2 linked regions of the Homo sapiens genome follow. The protein of the gene in region 1 interacts with the protein of each later gene in a pairwise test. Each region holds a gene or a part of one and is shown in the gene's direction. Other genes may lie near its edges.

The links. The genes of interacting proteins can lie anywhere in the genome.
Region 2: the proteins of PANX1 (region 1) and VAMP5 interact in binary tests that used the Homo sapiens proteins (3 or more experiments, as listed by UniProt).

The regions. Positions count from the first base shown.
Region 1 is NC_000011.10:94,177,341-94,180,840, forward strand, and holds part of PANX1 (pannexin-1), read left to right. Parts: intron 1-1,028; coding exon 1,029-1,252; intron 1,253-2,261; coding exon 2,262-2,917; intron 2,918-3,449; coding exon 3,450-3,500. UniProt on the Homo sapiens protein: Ion channel involved in a variety of physiological functions such as blood pressure regulation, apoptotic cell clearance and oogenesis.
Region 2 is NC_000002.12:85,583,118-85,587,230, forward strand, and holds the start of VAMP5 (vesicle-associated membrane protein 5), read left to right. Parts: upstream 1-1,313; 5' UTR 1,314-1,373; coding exon 1,374-1,376; intron 1,377-4,113. UniProt on the Homo sapiens protein: May participate in trafficking events that are associated with myogenesis, such as myoblast fusion and/or GLUT4 trafficking.

The DNA.
Region 1 (3,500 bases):
TACTCTTATGTCTTATTGCTGATTAGAAGATCACGCAAAAGGATAGTCGAAAGTGACATCAAGGGCCTAGACCAGGGTCAGCAAACTTCTGCAGAGGGCCAGATCATAAAGTTTTTTTGTCATTGCAGATCACATGGTCACTGTCGCAGCTACTTAGTTCTGCAGAGTAGACATGATTGCCCAAGGCCGCAATGCTGAGCTTCAATTCAGATCTGCACTGACTGCAATTTACGGTCTTCCTAAGTCTTCTGCTGAGGCTAAGCCACCTCTGACCAACTGGTGGTCCTGGTTACTGGGGTGCTCCTCACCCTCTCTGACGTGTGAATCCCCTCTTGTTTGGTGTGTGTCTGCACCCTGATGTGGATGCTCTCCTCTTGATTCCCTTGCCCGTTGTGGATGGCCTCTCTGAGCCCAAGTTTATCCAACTATACGATGAGGGTGTTGGACTGCCTTCAAAGTCTGTTCCACATTCATTCTGCATTCTGTGAATTCAACTGCTTATTTCAGCTGTCTTATTGGGATGATTACTGAATCACTGAAGTCGAAGCTTTTCTAATTTGTTTTGGGGGAAGTTACATGTTTCTTTGGCATTTTCCCAGATTCCAGAGTAGGGCAAAAATGGAGCCGTATGCCTTAGTTGCTTCTTAAAACCATAAAAGTTAACAAAAACCCAGCAGAAGCCTTCGTGATAGCTGCAGGTTTCTTAACTGGGATTTTGTTCAGGGAACGGGAGTAATTTTATTTTTTTATTTTCCTTCTGTGATTAGAACGTACACACCATGTGTCACCATGCAGTTGCTGATTACTTCAAATTAATACCTATGGAAGAAAAAAAAATAGGTAGTTACCTGTGACAGGTATTACCTGGACAGGGGAATTTAGCCATAAGAAGTAGTTATTAGGTAATGAGCCCAATTTCCACAATACACATTTGTCTCAAGATGTGAGAAAATGAGAGCATCACTTGGCGCCATAGGTTACTGCATGGGGGGTTTGTTAAGCCCATGATTTGTTCTCTTGTTTTTCAGTTTTTCCCCTACATCCTGCTGCTCTTTGCGATCCTCCTGTACCTGCCCCCGCTGTTCTGGCGTTTCGCAGCTGCTCCTCATATTTGCTCAGACTTGAAGTTTATCATGGAAGAACTTGACAAAGTTTACAACCGTGCAATTAAGGCTGCAAAGAGTGCGCGTGACCTTGACATGAGAGATGGAGCCTGCTCAGTTCCAGGTGTTACCGAGAACTTAGGGCAAAGGTAACTTAGCCCCAGCAGGCAGCTCATCGGGTTTTGTAGGACAAATTCTCTGCCCTTCTACTGCCAGTCTGGGCCCAGAGTTCTCATTGCTAGGAGGCGGGGCAGGAGTGGAAGCAGGGGGACGTCATGCACCTAGTGACAGCCTGTAGTATCCCGGGATGTCCACTCTCCCCAAATCTCACCGCGACCCATCCTACCCATTTGTTTATCCTTCTGTCAAGACTCATTCCCTTGATGAGTGAAACATTACATCTCATTTTAAAAATGCAGTTCTTGTAGGGGTAACAGATTGAGGTGCTATATGAAGCTTGCTTGCTTTGATCTATTTAACTCCTTAATGGAGACGCACAGAGGATTTCAAGGCAGCTGAGCAAGGGATGAGAGAGAAATGGGGAATGAGTAGGTCGTGGCTTGCCTTTTCACAACCTTCTTTTGGTTCTTGTTATTGAATAATTGGAATAATAATAAGAGCCATCATTTTTTGAATATTTAATATATCTCACACACCGTATTGAGTTATTTAAGTACATTATCTCCTTTAACCCTCAGAGCAACATTACTAGTGCATTTGTTAACCTCCTCCTCCACTTTTATTCTGGATAAAAATACTCTTCTGTAGCTGTAAGTGAGAGTCTGGGAACTGAACCATGCCCTTTAGACCCCATAGTTTTTGCCCATACCCCCTGAGTTGTCCCACCCCTTGCCTGTAAGAGGCGTATGCTTACACATATTTAGGATTTACCAGATGCCAGGCATCACTCTAAAAATTTCCAAATATTAACTCATTTAATTAACTAGGCCTTCTGTTAAATATTAAGGGGAAAAGCATTTTATTATTCCTTTTCTTCCTCCTCTTTTAAACGGATTTTATTTTTGACTACTGACGTTGTAGGTAAAGAAGTATGGGTGTTTGAAATTTTTAGTGTGACATTGTTGAATGTGTATCTGCCTTTAATATTTGATGGTCTTGATGAGTGCCTAAGTTATTTTTGTTTCCTTTATTTTTTAGTTTGTGGGAGGTATCTGAAAGCCACTTCAAGTACCCAATTGTGGAGCAGTACTTGAAGACAAAGAAAAATTCTAATAATTTAATCATCAAGTACATTAGCTGCCGCCTGCTGACACTCATCATTATACTGTTAGCGTGTATCTACCTGGGCTATTACTTCAGCCTCTCCTCACTCTCAGACGAGTTTGTGTGCAGCATCAAATCAGGGATCCTGAGAAACGACAGCACCGTGCCCGATCAGTTTCAGTGCAAACTCATTGCCGTGGGCATCTTCCAGTTGCTCAGTGTCATTAACCTTGTGGTTTATGTCCTGCTGGCTCCCGTGGTTGTCTACACGCTGTTTGTTCCATTCCGACAGAAGACAGATGTTCTCAAAGTGTACGAAATCCTCCCCACTTTTGATGTTCTGCATTTCAAATCTGAAGGGTACAACGATTTGAGCCTCTACAATCTCTTCTTGGAGGAAAATATAAGTGAGGTCAAGTCATACAAGTGTCTTAAGGTACTGGAGAATATTAAGAGCAGTGGTCAGGGGATCGACCCAATGCTACTCCTGACAAACCTTGGCATGATCAAGATGGATGTTGTTGATGGCAAAACTCCCATGTCTGCAGAGATGAGAGAGGAGCAGGGGAACCAGACGGCAGAGCTCCAAGGTAGGGTTTGCTTTTGGCAGAGGCTACGGGAGTCTACCGAGAGCCTTTGCAGCAGCCTTGTGGGAATATTGACAGTCTTTACCCTGCCCATCATTTAAACCATTTCCAAGCATTAAAAACCTTAATACCAAGGTGCGGGGTAGGGGGAGTGGGAACCCCTCAGTATAAGGAGAGAGAGGAAAAGAATTGGTGCTGCTCTACATTTCCAAAGAAGAATAACTTCTGTGCTTTTTCTGGTTTTTCCCTCTTCTCTGTCTGTCTCACACTCTCTCTTGCTCAGCAATCTTCCTTGTCTTTCTTGCTTATTTTTGTCTTATCTTACTGGCTTTCCTTTCTACCTCTGATCTCCTTCTCTGTTACTCTCTGACTTTCTCTTTCAAAGGGGACTAAAAGTTTATTGATTCTTTTAGTTAGGCCAAGAAGCAAAACATGGTATAGACTGTGAGAGGAATTTTTGGCAGAAGAAAAATTGATTAGTATTGGTAATTCCTGCTATGTTTCTGTCATAAATATTTGTTTTCAATTTTGACAGGTATGAACATAGACAGTGAAACTAAAGCAAATAATGGAGAGAAGAATGCCC
Region 2 (4,113 bases), on another chromosome or scaffold:
ATTTTTGTATTTTTTGTAGAGACATGGTCTCACTGTGTTGCCCAGGCTGGTCTCAAACTCCTGGGCTCAAGCAATCCTACCACCTTGGCCTCCCAAAGTGCTGGGATTACAAGTGTGAGCCACTGTGCCCAGGCTTGGGGTAGTCTTTGCTACAACATGTTAATCCTCTCTCTCCTGGATTCAAGGTGTAAGGAACTGAAGTGAAGCTTCTGCCTTGGGACCCAGGCTGTCCAAGGTGGGGGTGAGTGTCTGTGAAACCCTCTTGGTCTGGGACTTCTGTATTCACAGAGGCTCAGCCCCAGAGAGGGAAACTTTCAATTCTGTTGGTCAAGAGAGGCCTCACTTGAGGGACCAGGCCCAGTGGCTCACACCTGTAATCCCAACACTTTGGAAACCTGAGGCAGAAGAACTGCTTGAGGCCAGGAGTTCGAGACCAGCCTGGTCAACATAGTGAGACCCTGTCTCTCTCAAAAAAAAAAAACAAACAAACAAAAAAAAAAAAACGAGGGACCTTATTTTAAGATGTCCGAGGCAGCTTGGAGTAGTGGAGAACAGGTAGCTGGTGGTTTCTCTGTAGCAGTGAGAGGACAGGATGGGTAGATTCGGCTCAGGAAGGCTCTGAAGTGGTAGTAGATACACCAGCCTCCCCCATCCTCTGACTGAGGAGCAAGTGCATGGCGGGTGCATGACAGCACAGAGCTGCACTTGCCCTCATGGTGAGGAAAGACATACAGAAAGGCTAGAGCTAGTACTTTGCCCATGTGGGGCTGCTTTCTTTTTGAATAGAGGTGAAAGTCACACAATGTACAGTTTGTTATTTTAAAGTGTACAGATCAGTGACATGTATTCAGAATGTTGTGCAACCACCACTTGTCTTTAGTTTCAAAACTTTTTGGGTGCCTGTTTTTGGTTCTGGGTGAGATGCACTCACCAGGGTGATAAAGACCCTGCCTGGCTTGTTCATGGCGTCTCCAGGACCTAGTATGGTGCCTGACCGTGGCACTCATAGGGTGTTTGTTGAGTGAATGAATGATGCCTTTTCAGCTGAACTCGAGCTAGAAGACTCCAGGGCTCACTCCACTGTGCCCATTCCACAGATCCGGCCCCGAGGTGTGCCCGTTCACCAGGCAGAGGTGTCATCCGAATTCAGGCTCCTGGGGCCCGGGAGGGTCCGACTCTACGGACCCAGGTCGCTGTGGCCCATCGCTTTCGATTTGACTTGGTTTCTGTCGCCACTCGCGGAAGGCGCGCCCCCCGCCCTCGCTCGGCGGCCCGCCCCGCCCCGCCCCTGCTCTTCCTCCGGGGCCGCTGGCACTGCGGCCGCTCCGCAGGCAGAGAAGCCGGGAGCGGGCGAGGCGGCGGCGGCAGCAGCGATGGTGAGGGCCCAGGCGGGGCCGGCCAGCCCTGCGACGGGCAGAGGGCGAGTGGCGAGGGTGGGAGAGAGGAGTCCAAAGTCCGCGGGCTGGGGCCTCCCCTGGGGCCCACGAGGGCCAGACCTGAGGCGGTGACCACTGCTGGAGCAGGACGGGGCGGACCCTCCACTCCCTGCGCGCCGCATGGGAGAGAAATGCGTGAGCCCCGTCCTGGCTGCACCGCGCAGAGCGAGCGGGACTCGGGCTCCCCATTCTCCTGAAGCAAAGCGGTTAAGAGCACCGACTTTGGAGTCGGACTCCGGGCTGGGATCCCAGCTCTGTGACCCGGGACAAGTCACTTAACCTCCCTGAGCCTCCTTTTCCGCGTCTGTGAAGTGGGGTCAGTAATACCTGCCTTGTTGGGTCCTTGCGAGGTTAAAGGAGCCACAGTGGCAGAGACCCGCCTGGCACTCAGAACCCACTGCTAAGAAGTGGTAGGAAATGTAACGACCTCGTCAGCCCTTTCCGCAGCTGTGAGGAGCCAAGCCTGGCTCAGGAGTTGGAAACTTGAGCAGATGGGGTGGCAGAGGCCATTCCAGCCCCATGGCAGGGTGTTGGAGGGCGAACTCCTCCCCTAGAGAAAGAGAAAGGGAGATGTTTACTCTGAAAGTTCCACTGAAGTTATCAGTGTATGGCACAGGCCTGACTCCCTGCTAACCTCTACCTAGTGACACATTCCTGAGTTGAGTCATCCCCACTCCTGCTGCAGATCCTGGCCTTTGTCCTCACTTGCCATCTCCAAGGCAAAGATGTCAGGAACAGCTGGTGCCAGTTTCTCCCTTTCCCTAGGGCTCCTGGGAAAATGGACTGGGCAGGAAGTAGGCTTGGTGCTTTAAGATTTTGCCTTGGAGAAACTGACAGAGGTGTGATGGATGTGGCCTGGCTAGGGGTCAATGCCTGGATGGCCTTATCTCCAGGGAACTTGGAGGCAGGAAGAGGAAGTGGGGCAGGAAGGTAGCACTGAGCTCTGAGGCCAGGCCAGGAAGCTGAGGAAGGCTCTGAGAATAGGGCAGAGCCCAGAGCCCACTTAAGGGTGTGCAGGGCAAGGGGTCAGGCAGGGGTAGGGGTGGGCTTCAGCCGGCCCTTAGCTCTTTGGGAGAAGCTCCTGAAGTGAAGGCTGAAGGCAGGATATTTTATTGGGGGAGGAGGATACTGGGAAACCTGGGGATTCTCACGGGTACATTTGAGGCAGTCTGTGGAGGAGAGGCTGGGGAGGTCGCTCCTCCACCCATCCATCTCCTAGCCTCTTCCTGTTTCTTCTTTCACTCTTGCCCCTTTAGCGCTTTCCTTCCTTCCACCCATCCCCTTTCCCTCCCTGGTCCTTCTTCCTTTCACTTTTCTTTTCTTCTCTATGACTCATTCAACCAACAAGGATTTCTTGGAAATGTCCTTCATGCCAGCATGGTGACAAGTATAGGGGACAGAGCAGGAACAAAGCAGTGATGGGAAAGATGGAAATGGAATGAATAATTACTTGAATTCATTAATCTTGTAGATGATCCTCTCTCCAAAGAATGTGTGTGTTGAGCCACAGGCCTCCCTCATATGCACACAAATTAGGTTGGTAGCATCAACCAGATTCTTTAGCCAATCAGCTAAAGTGTCTGACCTCCTTGTACCTGCATCTAATTTAGCACACGGGTTACAAATGTGGTGCCTGGAGTCTGTGTTGGTTCAACTCCCAGATCTTCTACTCACTGGCTCTGTGATCTTGGACAGGTGATTTAACACCTCTGAGCCAAAGTTTCCTATAAAACTGGGAAAAGGCCAGGCGCAGTGGCTCACACCTGTAATCCCAGCACTTTGGGAGGCCGAGGCGGGCAGATCACGAGTTCAACAGTTCAAGACCAGCCTGGCAAACATGGTGAAATCCCGTCTCTACTAAAAATATAAAAAAATAGCCGGGTGTGGTGGCACACGCCTGTAGTCCCAACTATGCGGGAGGTTGAGGCAGGAGAATCGCTTGAACCTGGGAGGCGGAGGTTGCAGTGAGCTGAGATCGCGCCATTGCACTCCAGCCTGGGTGACAGAGTAAGGCTGTCTCAGAACAAAAACAAACAAACAAACAAACAAAATAACTGGGTTAATAATATGGCCTTCAATGGGTTGTTGGGTGAGGATTAAATGAGACAGAGCAAATGAACAGCAAGCAGCATAGTGCCTACCTCAGAGTATGTGCCCATTGGATGGTGGCTGTTATTCTTGCTCAAGATGTAAAACCTCAACAGCCTGCCGTGCCAGATGAAAATAAACTAGATGCAGCCGGGCGCGGTGGCTCACGCCTGTAATCCCAGCACTTTGAGAGAGAGGCCAAGCCAGGTGGATCACGAGGTCAGGAGTTCGAGACCACCCTGGCTAACACGGTGAAACCCTGTCTCTACTAAAAATACAAAAAATTAGCTGGGCGTGGTGGCAGGCGCCTGTAGTCCCAGCTACCCTGGAGGCTGAGGCAGGAGAATGGCGTGAACCCAGGAGGCAGAGCTTGCAGTGAGTGGAGATCACGCCACTGCACTCCAGCCTGGGCGACAGAGTGAGACACCATCTCAAAAAAAAAAAGAAAGAAAATAAACTAGATGCTAGTTACCAAGTTACCAAAAGCCCATTTAAAGTTCTGAGCCACAGGTTAGAAACAATTATGTGTACTATGTGTACAAGTTTGCCATAGGGAAGAGCTTGCTTGGCTGTGCATTTTATAAAACGA